Regions from separate parts of the Homo sapiens genome. Here all the other regions are linked to region 1. Evidence: fine-mapped expression QTL. A gene starts in region 1. Each other region holds a variant in brackets. All regions are shown on one strand. Distances are between the middles of the regions.

Region 1 (5,231 bases):
GCACTGCACTCCAGCCTGGGTGACAGAGCAAAACTTTGTCACAAAAATAAAGAAAGAAAGAAAAGAAAAGAAAAAGACAAGTCAAGAAAAAGCTCTTAACCTAAGACTATTTACAATTTAATTGAAGAGATGGTAAGTAAATAAAATGATGTGAACAAGATGGTAGTATGTAGGCAATTGGGAGGAGAGTGAGATCATTTTGTCCAGGGTGATGAGATTTTTGGAGAATTGGGTTTTGGTCATGTCATTTAGAAACAAGAGTAAAAGCATGAGCAGACAGAATGAATGACAGAGAACATTACAAGGATAAGAAATGTAAGAAATAAATGCCTAGAATAGTAGTAGAAATGAGTAGACTTCTGAAGTTAAGGCAGGTTAAGGCTACTAGTGAGAAGTGTTGGGGTGAAAGTATGGTTCAGTAACATGTTAACCAAGTTTATCTTTCATGTATATTTCTTTACTTGGCCCCAAATCCTAGGCCATTGAGAATTTGTAACTAAAATGTTCTAGATGTTTCCAAAAGAGACAGAATATATCAGGGATAGTTTTCATTACATGCCTTCTTTAGTTTCCTGGTGTAGTTTTTTGAATATACTTATCTCCCTTTCCCCCATCCCCATTGCTAGATCTTTTAATCCAGGGGTCCCCAATCCCCAGGCCAGAGACTGCTACCGGGATCTGTGGCCTGCGAGGAACCAAGCAGCACAGCAGGAGGTGAGCGGAGGGCAAGTGAGTGCAGCTTTATCTGTATTTACAGGGGCCCCCCATGGCTGGCATTAGGGCCTGAACTCCGTTTCCTGTCAGATCAGCAGTGGCATTAGATTGTGATAGGAGCGAGAACCCTATTGTGAACTGCGCATGTGAGGGATTTAGGTTGCGTGCTCCTTATGAGAATCTAATGCCTGATGATCTGTCACTGTCTCCCATCACCCCCAGATGAGACTGTCTAGTTGCAAGAAAACAAGCTCATGGCTCCCACTGATTCTACATTATGGTGAGTTGTATAATTATTTCATTACATATTACAGTGTAGTAACAGTAGAAATAAAGTGCACAGTAAATATAATGTGCTTGAATCATCCCCAAACCATCCTCCCTCCCCCAGAAAAAACTGTCTTCCATGAAACTGGTCCCTGGTGCCCAAAAGGTTGGGGACCGCTGTTTTAATCATCAAGGATTCTGACGAACCTCTTTGAATTTTCTATTTAATTCATATTCCATAAGTAAAACTTGATTCCTTGTTTGTTTGTTTTTCCCCTAAGAATTTAGAAAGCAGAGTGCATGTTGGGGAGACCTGGTTTAAATTCGAGAAGCAGATAACACAAAGACAAGTAAAAAAAAAAAACATGATGTACACAGGATTGACAGAATAAAAAAAAAGTCTTTGTGCAAGGGAATGTGACTATACAGAAATGTGGAGAGGAAAATACGTAATGTTAGTGTTAATAACTTTTGACCCCATTTAGGTCACTTTGAGTAATGAAGCTCAAAACACTAGATTATATTTTTAGCAAAGTAAGTGCAGTATCCAGTCTCTCACAGATGTCATGTGTCTCAGGCCGTTTGGAAAATTCAGCATCTGCCGCATTCCCAGTCTTTGATGAGGACACTCCGCGAACTACAAGCACCCTCAGTGGGAGGACCTCCCAGGTCGGGGTGTGAGGGCCAATGAGGAGGCTGGGGAGGGGAGGCAAGAGTTACGGAAACGGGGCCACAGCACTCCAGATGCCGCGGCGGGAGGAAGCGGGGCTGCAGAGGACTCAAAACGCGTTCAGAGAGGCCCATCCAAATGCCAGGAGACAGACGGCAAGGATGCTTAAGAGGAGACGTGACTGGGCGAGGCAGATGAGGAGAGGGCCGTGGGCCAAGGTCACCCGCTAAGAGGCGGCAGGTTTACCACTGAGACACGAGGCCGTGGTTTTTGCCCGTGCCTCCAGAAAGAGCGTGGCGAGATCCCCGCAGAACCCAGGCGTGGGAGGCCCTGGGGAAGAGCCACGAGGCCCGACTCTAGTGGCTCAGGGGCCCTGGGCAGCGGCGCGCCACCGCTCGCCCCACCCTCAGCCGCTCTCCTCTTCCGGGCGCGCTGCTTGCCTGCGTGCGCCGGGACGCGCGGGGCCGAGCGTCTGAAGCGCGCCCGTACGCGGAGCGGCGCTTTCTAGGAGCCCCGCCCTCAGGTGCGCTCTGCAGGAGGCGGGGCGCGACTTCGGCGCCGCCAGCTCTGCCTGCGCCAGGAGCGCGCGGGTGCGCGCGGCCGCGCCCTCGCACAGATCCCAGCTGGGTCACCCGCACTGAGTCAACAGACTGAGCGCGTCCAGGCCTGACAGCTCTGCGGCTCGGGCCCTGAGGTGAGGCGGGCGTCGCGGGCGGCGGCGGCGCTTGAGGCTAGCCTGGGACAGCCGTCCCTGGGGGAGTTGAGGGGACGAGGAGGGGCTGGCCAGCGAGGGACGGCGGGGAGAGAAGGGGAGTTCGGCGTCTGAGGTGTGGGGTGAAGCGGGCTCGGAAGCGGGCAGAGGCGGCGAGCTGAGGGAAACAGACCTCCCTCAGCTCCCGGGAAGCGCGGGTTGCCAGCCTCGGGGATGCGGTGGGAGCGCCCAGGATGCGGACGTGAGGGGGTCGGGGCCCTGCGGCGGGGGCTCCGCGAGGCTCCCCTGGGACCGGGTCCGGCCGTGGGACTTCGGGACACTGCCTTTGCCTGGACGCTGTCGTTCCACCCTCAGCAACCTCAGGGAAAGAAGGAAAACAAATATTGATGTAAATTTCCGTCTGAACAGCTGGGTAATGAGCGCTTGCTCTTCCCTGCGAGGTTACGCGCGGATCATTACCTTGCGTGTTAAAAGGAGTTTCAGTGAGAAGAAAATGCGCAGATCTCATGACACAGTTTGGGAGGGAAATTCCCTGATCCTAAAACACGAATAGGAGCTCCAGGCATGGAAATACTTAATTGGATCGGAAAGCTGGGCAGGCTGGAGCTATTAAGCTGAAGGAGGTTTTCCCCTGGGCTCCTCAGGCTTCGATTTACGTTTTAAATAAATAAGTCCGAAAATAATGAAGATAATAACCACGTTTACTTTCTACAAGGGCGTTCTGAAGGAATCTAAGGGAAGAGGAGTATTTGCTGGACTACAGCTTTAAGCCAGGCTCGGTATTAGCTCTTTTCATTCTGACAGCAACCCTGTAGGATTGGAGGGGGTTATTCCAGTTGGGCAGGTGTGGAGAATGGGCCTCAAAGAGGTTAAGTAACTTATTAAGGTCTCAGCTAGTAAAAGGATGGAGTTGAGATTCCAACCCGGGCTGCCAGACCCTAATTCTGGTGCTTTATTTAGTATATTTTGTGTTTGCCGGGAGAGCAATATTGTATGTGTTTTAGGGAAGACTCCATAGTAGGGAACATTATTAGGGCAGTTAGGGCTTTGTGGGTATTTGTGTTAAAATCAAACTAAAGAGGCGTTAATCTTTGCATATGTGCTGTTTGAGTATATTTCCTTTCAAACAGATTTAGTGTAGGGAAATCTTACATTCACTATAAGAGCAAATTTATTAGTACATTCCATGTGTATTGCATGTCTTTTATTTTTAAAGAGACAGCGTCTCGGGCTAGAGTGCAGTGGTGCGATCAAAGTTCACTGCAGCCTTGAACGTCTGGACTCTAGGGACCCTGCTGAATAGCTGGGGCTACAGGCGTGTGTCACTGCGCCCAGGTAATTTTTTATTTGTTTTTCAGAGACGAAGTCTTGCTATATTGCCCAGGCTGGTTTGTTGCATGTCTTTTACATTCCAGATACCATACTATGTGCCAAGAGTACCGATATGAATACAATTTATAATCTCTGTCCTTGAGTTTAGTTGAGAGGGTGATTGCATAAAAGAATTTTATGATATTGTACTAAGTCATAACTTTTCTAGTATGTAAATTAGTTGGATTAAAAATAGTTTTAAGGGCAAGCTTTTAAGGACCTATTATGCATAAGAAAATTTATTGGATGACTTGTCCTCTGTGTACCATTGCATTGTTATTTTCTCCCTCAGCAAGAAACACTGTGATAAAATTTAGGTTAAATTATATTGACAACTAGCATTTTTTTTTTTTTGAGACAGGGTCTCATTCTGTCACCCAGGATGAAGTGCAGTGGCAGGATCTTGGCTCACTGCAGCCTTGACTTCGCAGGCTCAAGTGATCCTCCCACCTCAGCCTCCCAAGTAGCTGGGACCACAGTTGTGTGCCCCTACGCCTGGCTATTTTTTTTTTTTTTTTTTTGGTAGAGACAGTGTCTCTCTATGTTGCCCAGGTTGATCTTGAACTCTTGGGCTCAAGCCTTCCTCCCACTGGGATTGCCACGTGAGCCACTGCACCTGACTGCATTTTGTTTTATTATTGCACCACCTTACAGTAAATTTTAAAGCAATAAAGAAGATGAGAGCATTTATAATTTATCCCTTTTTAAGCTAAAAGGCATATTTTGTAGTGCTTTTATTTCATTGATTGAGAAGCAAATGATGTAGCTAGGCAGGAGTTTGTTTCATGTGCCAGATATGTTCCTAATTTCTCATTCCAAAAATATCTTAGTTTAAAAGTGTAGCTAATACCAGATTGCATTTAATTTCTTGTGTTTCAGAGTTGTAATGAAATCAGTCTTCAGTTTAGGCTGAAATGGCACATTGTTGAAATGTATAACATTACTTTGTGGTGGATTTTGGAAATCTCTTTTAATTGCTTCAGTTTTCTCAGTAAAGTAGGATTCAAGGTCATAATCTGAGGGTGATCCTACAGATGGAAGCTTTGGAGATTTGGGGATTGGGAAAGTGATGGACTAGTGGAATATGTGATTGCTAGGAAATTAAACATGACTCACAGTTGTGAAAAGTACAGTAGAGGAAAGATATGAGTGCACAAATTAGGGTGTCTAATTTTGGATACCAGAAACTTCATAATCCATTCCCAATGCCTGCCTTTACCGTGTTATCTAGAACATACATCTGCACCCCTTGCTCCGGTTCACTTTGCCTTATGCCTCTGCCATATGGCAGGTATCCCTGTTCTTCACAAAAGTCAAGCCCTTTTGTTTGGGAGTCTAGCTTTACCATTCTTTTCTTTCTGCCTGGAAATTCCATTCCACTCCTTTCCAGGCTCTTTCTCTCTTATCACATTATATTAAATTTTATCTCTCTGCAAAGTTAGTGACAGTGTCTAACTTTATTTTTTTTGCCTCATAATGTTGGATGCATAAATCCTT
Region 2 (5,231 bases), 100 kb after region 1:
CATGTAGAGATTGCAGTCTGTTCAGAAATAGTCAGTACCATTTCAGTGGGAGCTAACAGGATTTATATCATCCTTTTAAATTTCTGCAATAGCTTCCGAAGCAGTTCGATCAAATATTTTGCTTCGTATATTGAAGAAGGATACATCTATATTTATTACTCACTAGAATTTAAAAAAAGTATGTCAATCCAGAAATGTGAAAATATTGGTACAATGAACACCTATACATCCACCATCCAGATTTGACAGCTGTTAACATCTTGCCATCTTTGCTTCATCTCTCTGTCTCCTCTTCTTCCCTAAAATATATGTAATGGCTAAATATTTTAGTATCTCAAAAAATTAAGAACTTGGTTCCCTACATTACCACTATCCCACTACACAAAATTAAAAATAATTCCATATCATCTAGTTCCATGGCCAAATTCAATTTTCCAAATTTCCCCCAAAATGTCTTTTAAGGTTGATTTGTTCAGGAACCAATGAGACAAAACTAGTTATCCTGTTGAATATTCCATGTTCTCTTTTTATCTGATTGCCTCTCCATGCTGTCATTTAAGTCATCCCTTTATCATCTATATTTTTTGTAAGCAGTGAGCTGGATCTAAAAGCAGGATCCAATTCTGGTTAAATATTTTTGGCAAGAGTATCTTCTGTGTGATGCCATATACTTACGTTGCTTCAAATATGAGGGCATAAAATCAATGGCAGTCCCACTAATAGGGGTGCTAAATCACTGGGTTAAGATTGATTGCAATTGTTGATATTATCTCAAAAGTTGTGTATTTTTGAAAGGGTGTTTTTTTCTTTAAAAGGTAGATATTAATTTGGGCAGAAAAAAATTACAGACTGAAATGAAGTCATGCTCAATGGCAATACATTCTGCCTTAAAAATGTGTTTGGATGTTTCTCACTGGTCTGGACCACGTTATAACATGGCTCATTTCTCTTTTGTGTGCTGGAGGAATGGACAATAACATTGTTTCTAGGGCTATATTTGTGCATCTTTTCGGAACACTTCAGAGCTACCCGTTTTCCTGAACAACCTCCTAAAGTCCTGGGAAGCGTGGATCAGTTTAATGACTCTGGCCTGGTAGTGGCATATACACCAGTCAGTAACATAACACAAAGGATAATGAATAAGATGGCCTTGGCTTCCTTTATGAAAGGTGTGTTGTCCAATAACCAATGTTTCAGTATTATGTGACTTAATTTTCAAGTTCTTTTTGCAGGTTGAATTTACTTACCTAGCCTGTGTGTCAGTGATTCTCAACTGAGGCAAAGATTCTCATTATATATGCAGTACAGGGGTTGGTGTGAAGCTAAGGGTAGGTGGGCAACAGATGAAATGATTTACTTTTGTTTGTTTGTTTGTTTTTAATGATATGCATACCGTTTGCCCTTTATACTAGAACATATTGTTGCAGTAGGAAAAAAAGATTGGACCCATTTTAGATGATACAAATTTCACTTTTCCAAAACTTAACTTAAAAAACTTTATATTTGGGTTGGTATTCTATAATTTAAAGAGTTTCAAAAAATTTTAAGGATTTAATTATTTTCAATTGAGATTGAAATAAATATAGTTCCCAGTATATAGGAATTATAAATCAAAGGTGTTTGAAATTCAAACTCAAGCTTAGCAATGGTGTTGAAAAAGCATTACTGTTTGGTGTATAAAAATAGTTAAAATGTACAGCTCAGGGCATTTAAAATTATTTAAAATCAAATCAGGTATTGGCTACTGAAAGTCAACAAATTCACAGCCCTTGATCTTAGAGTAGTGAGGCTTTTTTTTTTTTTTTCCCATAAGACTTTTTCTGCATATCTGGACTCAGAAAATAGATGTCTCTATGTTATGTAGGATGCTGCATTAATTTGATGTATGCATCTCATAAAGAAATAAGAACACCTGAGAGTCCTACTTACTATGTGAGACCTTTGCCTACCATCCTTTATATCTCTACTGCCATTAGGAGTAACTATTGGTGGTCAGCTGTGGTCTCTGGACTCTCCATAGAGGCCTTTGCTCCTGCATAGGGAAAGTATCAGGATAAAATGTTCTTTTCTTCAGCAATCTTAGCCTACTATCAAATTTCTCTTGTTGTTAGCCCTCATTCTGCCAGGGTTCTGAACATTGGCCATTTCATCCTTTTGTACATTTTATCCAATCTGTTAACGTCTCAGCTCTAATCACTGCTTTTTCTTGTCTTTCTGAAACTTTTATTTAGTTTTTTGGTGTCTGGATTGCCATGCCAAGGGACACCTCCAAACTCTGAATTTTAATTATTTTATGTGAGTTGCTAATATTCTGTGCCTAACCTATCCAAGCTTTCGAATGGGTATTGTTATCCCTGGCTGCTTTACCCTGTTTTGTAATTCTTCATTGCAGTTTCTGGAGCTTTGACTTTGGTGGGCCTCCCTTACTTGCATTGTTTACATGTTCTGCCTGACCACAGTGTTGATTCTGCCCTGATCTGTCTCTATTCACTTCCTTTGTGTAGTCATTTACCTCATTTTTTCTGAACTCATGAAGCATTTACTGAAGCCTCAGGGACTATTCTTCCTGTATGCACAGTGTAAGCTAATAGCCACTTTCTGTCTTAGTCTCACGGACCACTGGACTCTGTCTCTTTCTTATATAAAATATCTCATTCCAGCTACCATGCTCGCCTGTTCCAACCACAGCTCCTCTCTCACTGTCTTATTCTACATTTATCTAACTCTTGCTTTTTAGCATAAATATTCATGGTTTGGCCTTGACAGTATTTTTTATACCCCTAGAGAAAATCAGTGATGTTAGCACTGTCCTCATAAAAGTTTCACCGCCTGACTCTATATTGGGAAGGATGAGGAGTTTTGAAAG[G/A]TATGGCTACAGCATAAAATAAACAGCTTTTTCATCTTAATGTAGATTTCACCCTGAGTGAGATACAAAGTTAATAAAATTTTTAGAACATAATACATAAACGTGAAAAAGGAGGCACTAATTGGACCAGTGATTTTCAAAGCTTCTGTTAGTAATAGATCTATTAAACACTTAGTGGGTGGATTACTCCTGCAGATTGTAAACTCATTCATTTATGCACTGATTACTATACACTTAATTCTTAGAGAGTGTTCTTGACCTCAGAGAATCTGTAGGTAGACTATATTTTTTATTTTTGTACTCTGATTTTTTGTATACAATTTACCTCTAGTGTACTATTTTCATGTGATATCAGTTTATAATCTTGGCAGAAAAAGAGAAAACACCAAATTCTGAGTATTTGTATTGCTTACTTTAAATATTTTTCCTTTTAATTCTTAAATTATTTTAGTCACTAAAGTAATATCTACTTTAAAAAAAGTTGAATAGTACAAACTTGTATGAAGCAAAAATATGAGAGCTTTTCCTTTCATCTTCACCACTACTTCCTCTCCTCCCCTACCCCCTCTCCTCCCCTACCCCTCATTCAAATTGTGTATATCCTTCAAGGCAAATATGCACATGGTCATATATAGAGTATGTTTCTATGCTTACATAGGCACATAAATTCAGTTTTCTTTACCAAAATGAGATCACACTAAAAGCAATATGCTGCAGATTTTTAAAAGACAATGTGTCCTTTGTGTCTTTTCATGTATTTGCATTGAACTTAAAACAATAGTTTCACTCAGCCTTTTACTAAGAGGCAGCTATCCAGAAATAATATATAATACCACTAATTTTATATAAAACAAGCAACTGTATTTTGTTTTTGTGTCCTCTAGTAATAAGTTTACATGATTATTTATTTATGTTTTTCATACATGGTAGGAAGAACAGTCATTGGGACACCAGATGAAGAGACCATGGATATAGAACTTCCAAAAAAATACCATGAAATGGTGGGAGTTATATTTAGTGATACTTTCTCATATCGCCTGAAGTTTAATTGGGGATATAGAATCCCAGTTATAAAGGAGCACTCTGAATACACAGGTAACTATAAAAAAACTGATTATAATTTTTTTTTGATACTTCATGGAATCCCCTGTTTGGAATGACTGATAGGAATATTAATACAACCAAGTAAAGAATTAATATACATTTCCCTCTGAACTTAATCATCAGTCTTTAACTTAGGATGAGTCTCATTATTTTGGCAACTACTCATATGTCCTTTTTTTTTTTTTTGAGATGGAGTCTCCCTCTGTCACCCTGGCTGGAGTGCAGTGGCGCGATCTTGGCTCACTGGAACCGCTGCCTCCCGAGATCCAGTGATTCTCCTGCCTAAGCCTCCAAAGTAGCTGGGACTACAGGCTAATTTTTTTGTATTTTTAGTAGAGATGGGGTTTCACCATGTTGGTCAGGCTGGTCTCGAACTCCTGACCTCAAATGATCCACCCGCCTCGGCCTCCCAAAGTGGTGGGATTACAGGCATGAGCCACTGCCCCTGCCATCATATGTTCTTTTTTTCTCCAATTCTGTAGAGTACTTTAAAAATCCTCTATATCATATAATCATAGGCTTTGAGCTAACATTTAGATATTTTGATTTTTGAGCCAAAGTTAAAGTTTTAATTCCAGGAGTTGACTCCATTATATAACTATGGACATGTTTTTCTTCTTCCTTAAAGAACACTGTTGGGCCATGCATGGTGAAATTTTTTGTTACTTGGCAAAGTACTGGCTAAAAGGGTTTGTAGCTTTTCAAGCTGCAATTAATGCTGCAATTATAGAAGTAAGTGCCTAACTTCAAAGCTATATTTTAAATCTGTATTCTTCCCTCTTTTTAAATATCTGCCTCATCCCCTACCTTACTCTTACACTCTTAGGAGGTGATACTTTGCCTGTCATCCTCAGAGAAAACAAAAGCTGTCACATGGGAATATCTCCCAACTTCTAACATAAACCCTGTAAAACTACAGACCTATGACCCCCTACACACATTCTCTTTCTTCATCCCTAATGTCTTTCCTCAGTTCATGGTCTGGATCCCATCCCTCCCAACTTCATCAGCAAAGTTCAACTATGGACTTTTGTTTTTGTCTCCTCTTTTCAATCTCTGCCTTTCTGCTAGATTCTTCTCTTCAGGATTTAAAATTAATTTCTTCACTTATGGTCAAGACCTTCCTTTATCCACTTTCCTCTTCACACAACTACCCTAACTTCCTTCTATTAATGGCTAAGTTTCTTGAAAGGGTTGTCCTCCTTTGACTCAACTCAACTCAATATTATCTATCCCTACCACACCATCAAAAGGGCTTTTT
Region 3 (5,231 bases), 73 kb after region 1:
GATAATCCTAGATCTTATGTTAGTGTATTTTTTCAGTCTTTTCTCTACCTAGTATCTGAATTTCTTACTATTTTAATTATTTGAAAACCTACTGTCTTTTATATTTATTATATATATGTAGAAACCTTTCAACGAAGTCTAAAAATAGGAAGCTTCCAGAACCACCAGACAATGAGGATGAAGATGAAGATGTCAAAGCTGAAAGACTAAAGGTCAAAGAGCTGATGGGTTGCCAGTGTTGTGAGGAGGTAATTTATTCTTTATGGCTAAGTCATAGTAAATATGAAATGATCAATTCCCGGTATATAGAAATTAATCTGAAAAATATTTTTCTTTGCATATGAAGCAATCTGAAAAAAATCTTTCTTGGAAAAAAATACTTCGTTTACTTACTTTTGAATAAGCCAGAATTTCAGTCATAAATGGATATTTATTTGTACAGTATCCCCTTATTAGCCAATATAATTTTTGTAATATGGATATGAGGTATGTGCAGCCTGTCATTTCATGATAAGTTTTATAACTTTCTTTTTAAATACAATTTTTCTTATTAGAAACCATCCATTATGGTCAGCAATTTGCATAAAGAATATGATGACAAGAAAGATTTTCTTCTTTCAAGAAAAGTAAAGAAAGTGGCAACTAAATACATCTCTTTCTGTGTGAAAAAAGGCTGGTATTTAATTTTTCCTTACATAACTTTTCTAGAAGAGTAATTTCTACTTTTAGTATGATTTGATTATGATTTTTTTTTCTTTCAATTCCTTTAGGAGAGATCTTAGGACTATTGGGTCCAAATGGTGCTGGCAAAAGCACAATTATTAATATTCTGGTTGGTGATATTGAACCAACTTCAGGCCAGGTATGATATATAAGAGTATAGGATATGTTGAATGTGATTTATATTGTTAATTAACATAAACTTTTAGTGACAAATTCGGATTTTATATTCAATTTTTATGTATATTTTTAGAATTTTTTGTACAGCCTGATCAAATTATGATCTTTTGGGTTATCTGTAAAAATAATGTGCATGGTGAAATTTTCATAGACACATGTAGACACACGCATATACAGTATTTCTGCTTTTGTAATGCTTACATGCGTGAGTTATTTGTCTACCAACTTAATGGAAGACAGTTTTATTAGCTTCAGGAGATATGGGAGCTTGTTTTGACCTGCCATCAGCTAGTCTTTTATTATAAGCATGTCACTGACCACTTTGTGGATACTTCACAAAACTACCCTGATCCCATTTCCTGCTTCTCTCCCCTTGCTTACTTTATGCCAGCCACACTAACTCATTGCTTTCCTGGAAAATGCCAGGCATACTCTTTTCTTTGGGTTTTTGCCCAAGATGTTTTCTTTGTTTGGCTATACCTTATACCCTAGAAATACATATACTAAATTCACTTACCTCTTTGGCTCAAATGTCACCTTCCAGTGAAGCTCCCTGATCATTAGAATTACATCTTGCTTTTTCATCCAACTCTGTATTACCCTTTCTGACCAAGTCTCTGAACTCTGACTTAGCTTTATATGTCCTTCCATCATCAAACATCAAAAAGGAGTAAAACATCTGGGCGGGTGCAGTGGCTCATTCCTGTAATCCCAGCACTTTGGGAGGCTGAGGCAGGAGGATCACTTGAGCTCAGGAATTCAAGACTAGCCTGGGCAACGTAGTGAGACATCTTCCCTCCTAAAATTCAAAAAAGAAAAAAGCAATAGCCAGGCATGGTGGCACATGTTTGTAGTCTCAGTTACTTAGTGATAATAATAATAATGACAATAAAGGAGTACAAATCTGACTTGATATTAGTCTGGCTGTAGGAAGGGGTTTTAATTAATGTACTTGCCACTTCCTTCACAGTGTAAATTAAGCAAAATAATAAAAATTGGTTTGTGTTTCTATAGGTATTTTTAGGAGATTATTCTTCAGAGACAAGTGAAGATGATGATTCACTGAAGTGTATGGGTTACTGTCCTCAGATAAACCCTTTGTGGCCAGATACTACATTGCAGGAACATTTTGAAATTTATGGAGCTGTCAAAGGAATGAGTGCAAGTGACATGAAAGAAGTCATAAGTCGGTAAAATAATTGTCTTTAGATTCCTTTTGTTACTTAGAGGAAAGGTTTGCATTTCATATTTTTAAAATTTCATAACAAGCATTTCTGTGGACAATGATTTTTATAGAAAATGTTTATTACTTTTTCATATATTCTTTATGATATATGAAAATATACTGATAGCTGTAAATTATGATAGTTATAAAAAGGTCATTTTTTAATTTCTAGTTACAGGATAAATATACCTATAGATATCATGAAACTTATTTTAATTCAAAGTGAACCATTTTATCAAGATATTAATTTATTTAAAATGATGTAAATTGGAGACTTTTGCCCTTACCTACTTATAATAAGCTTCGACTAAGTAACTATTCTAGAGAAAACAACATCAGGGATCACACCCAGTTGGTATTTGTGTTTATATATATCATGGTATTCTCATTTTGTATTGTTCATTTTGCAGAATAACACATGCACTTGATTTAAAAGAACATCTTCAGAAGACTGTAAAGAAACTACCTGCAGGAATCAAACGAAAGGTACTTTCATTA[A/G]ACACCAAATAATGCCTGTATTTTTATTGATAGTTTAGTACCTGATATTGTCTTGATAGATTCCTTATAGTGAACCTTTGTTAATTTCCCACCCATCTTTTTCTTTCCATGTAGTTGTGTTTTGCTCTAAGTATGCTAGGGAATCCTCAGATTACTTTGCTAGATGAACCATCTACAGGTATGGATCCCAAAGCCAAACAGCACATGTGGTGAGTATGGTACTTGTGACACAGTACATGATACTTTAGAATAGAACAGTTTCTTTTATTATAATAGTTTAATGTTAGTTATATGTACATCTTGATTTTAAATCCTATTCAAACGATACACTAGTAATTAAAAATTAAATAGATTTAGAGATTTCCTTAAGCTTTTAAAACTTTGCATATTTTTCATGAAGTGTTCATAATATTTTACATATTCCGAAACAGAAATAAGCATGAGTCATTATTAAGATAAAGAGTTCTAGTGTTCTGAATAGTTTTTAAGTTTTTTTCTAGTCATTTAGCATACAAATGATCTTTTCCATAATAATAGTGTCTTAAATTTATGTTGAGACTCTTTCTAGGACAGTCATGCATTGCCTAATGACAGAGATACATTCTGAGAAAGGTGATGTTGTCGTTGTGCAAACATAATAGAGTGTACTTATATAAATCTCTGGGTGGTTATAGCCTACTACACACCTAGACTATATGGTATAGCCTATTACTCCTAGGCTATAAATCTGTAGAGCATGTCACTGCACTGAATACTGTAGGCAGTTGTAACACAATGGTATTTGTGTATCTAGATGTATCTAAACACAGAAAAGATACATTATAAAAGTATTATAATCTTATGGAATCACTGTTGGAAATGTGTTTCATCATTGACTGAAATGTCATTATGCAGTGCCTGTAAAGTACTAATTAGTTGAACAACTCTTTTTTTTTTTTTTTTTTTGAGTCAGAGTCTTGTTCTGTTGACCAAGCTGGAGTGCAGTGGTGCCGTCTTGGCTTACTGCAACCTCTGCTTCCCAGGCTGAAGCGATTCTCCTGCCTCAGCCTTCCAAGTACCTGGGACTACAGGCAAGAGCCACCAAGCCCGGCTAATTTTTTGTATTTTTGGTAGAGACAGGGTTTCACCATGTTGGCCAGGCTGGTCCCGAACTCCAGACCTCAGGTGATCCGCCCCCTTCGGCCTCCCAAACTGCTGGGATTACAGGTGTGAGGCACAGTGCCTGGCCTTGAACAACTCTTTAAGCCTCAACTTCCATGTCTATAAAATGTAAGGTTTGGTTTGGATGCATGTTACGGTTTTCTTATGATTCAAAGCCTGTTTTGGTTATAACATGAAAAGGCATCAATTTTAAAATTTATTTGTTGTCATACTTTTAGCCCATATTAACATTTGAAATCATAGATTTTTTTTTTCCATTTGACAAGCTTTCAAAATGAAGGGAAAATAAATTAGAATATAAAAGTCATGGCCTGGCGCAGTGGCTCACGCCTGTAATCCCAGCACTTTGGGAGGCTGAGGCAGCAGACCACGAGGTCAGGAGATCGAGACCATCCTGGCTAACACGGTGAAACCCCGTCTCTATTAAAAATACAAAAAAAAATTAGCCGGGTGTGGTGGCAGGCACCTGTAGTCCCAGCTACTCAGGAGGCTGAGGTAGGAGAATGGTGTGAACCTGGGAGGTGGAGCTTGCAGTGAGCCGAGATCGGGCCACTTCTCTCCAGCCTGGGGGACAGAGCGAGACTCCGTCTCAAAAAAAAAAAAATCATAGTTGGGCAGGATGTAATAGCCATAGCAATTGATATTTGGTAAGTTTTAATTAACTTAATTAACCAACCGGTTGGATTTTTAAAAACCCATTTTTTTTTAACAAACAGATGTGTTCCTCTCTTTTTGTTTTATTTATGTTTTATAGGCGAGCAATTCGAACTGCATTTAAAAACAGAAAGCGGGCTGCTATTCTGACCACTCACTATATGGAGGAGGCAGAGGCTGTCTGTGATCGAGTAGCTATCATGGTGTCTGGGCAGTTAAGGTTGATGTCTAAATAGCGTGCCATTCAGGGGAAGAGGTTGGGGGTTGGATTTTGAAAGTCATCATTTCAAAAACATGGCAATAGTTAGTAATTTAAATGTTAAATATTTTAGTTTTTGAGTTAGCTTTTGATAGATTGACTTGGAAGTATGTTGAGTTTTTTAAAAATATGGCTGTCTACTTTGAATTTGAATTCACTTAATATTTCAATAACTTGGAATATTATTTTTAGGCATAGTACTTGTTATTTCAAAAAATTGTTATATATTGGATTAATTATGTAACACAAATATGAAATAAACATATGAGTTTCTACTTACATAAATAAATAATTGAGTAAAGAAATGTGTCAGAGAAGAGGTACATCTTCCTTACAGAACAATTCCAAATAATAATATATGTAGATAATACCCACTTCAAGGGAGGAGGCTTAATCTCCTATCCCCCAAGTTTGGACGGGACTTAGCCAGTTTCTTGTAAAAAATGAACGACAGAAGGAGAAAAATAGTAACTTTACAGTTGAGAAAGCTGGCAAATACTACCTTAACTAAACGATGTTGTGCAGATATCATGT

Direction of the effects. Alleles are on the strand shown, and positions count from the first base shown. SD is a standard deviation of normalised expression in the study named.
With allele A in place of G in region 2, the expression in visceral fat of the gene that starts at base 2,264 in region 1 is higher (small effect, 0.24 SD a copy in GTEx).
For the expression in esophagus muscle of the gene that starts at base 2,264 in region 1, allele A in region 3 goes with a lower level than allele G (small effect, 0.21 SD a copy in GTEx).

The links. PIP is the estimated chance that this variant, and not a neighbour inherited with it, causes the effect. A credible set is the group of variants that fine-mapping cannot tell apart.
Region 2: its variant is the best candidate, but not a certain one, in a credible set for the expression of ABCA5 in visceral fat (GTEx, PIP 0.86).
Region 3: its variant is the best candidate, but not a certain one, in a credible set for the expression of ABCA5 in esophagus muscle (GTEx, PIP 0.85).

Annotation. Positions count from the first base shown.
Region 1 is chr17:69,324,166-69,329,396 of GRCh38, reverse strand. ABCA5 (ATP binding cassette subfamily A member 5) reads left to right here and starts at 2,264. Exons shown (of 39, transcript NM_172232.4): 1 at 2,264-2,345. RefSeq lists an enhancer at 1,758-1,897 and silencers at 1,978-2,357, 2,488-2,577.
Region 2 is chr17:69,221,263-69,226,493 of GRCh38, reverse strand. It overlaps ABCA10 (ATP binding cassette subfamily A member 10), which reads left to right. Exons shown (of 39, transcript NM_001377321.1): 3 at 965-1,169; 4 at 3,797-3,961; 5 at 4,599-4,702. The coding sequence starts at 1,136. Among named protein-coding and RNA genes, the nearest start is that of ABCA10, 4.9 kb to the left of the region's middle. The variant G/A (reference allele first, on the strand shown) is at 2,867.
Region 3 is chr17:69,251,174-69,256,404 of GRCh38, reverse strand. It overlaps ABCA5 (ATP binding cassette subfamily A member 5), which reads left to right. Exons shown (of 39, transcript NM_172232.4): 29 at 122-248; 30 at 555-672; 31 at 771-862; 32 at 1,915-2,090; 33 at 2,536-2,611; 34 at 2,738-2,832; 35 at 4,539-4,658. Among named protein-coding and RNA genes, the nearest start is that of PRO1804, 19 kb to the right of the region's middle. The variant A/G (reference allele first, on the strand shown) is at 2,624.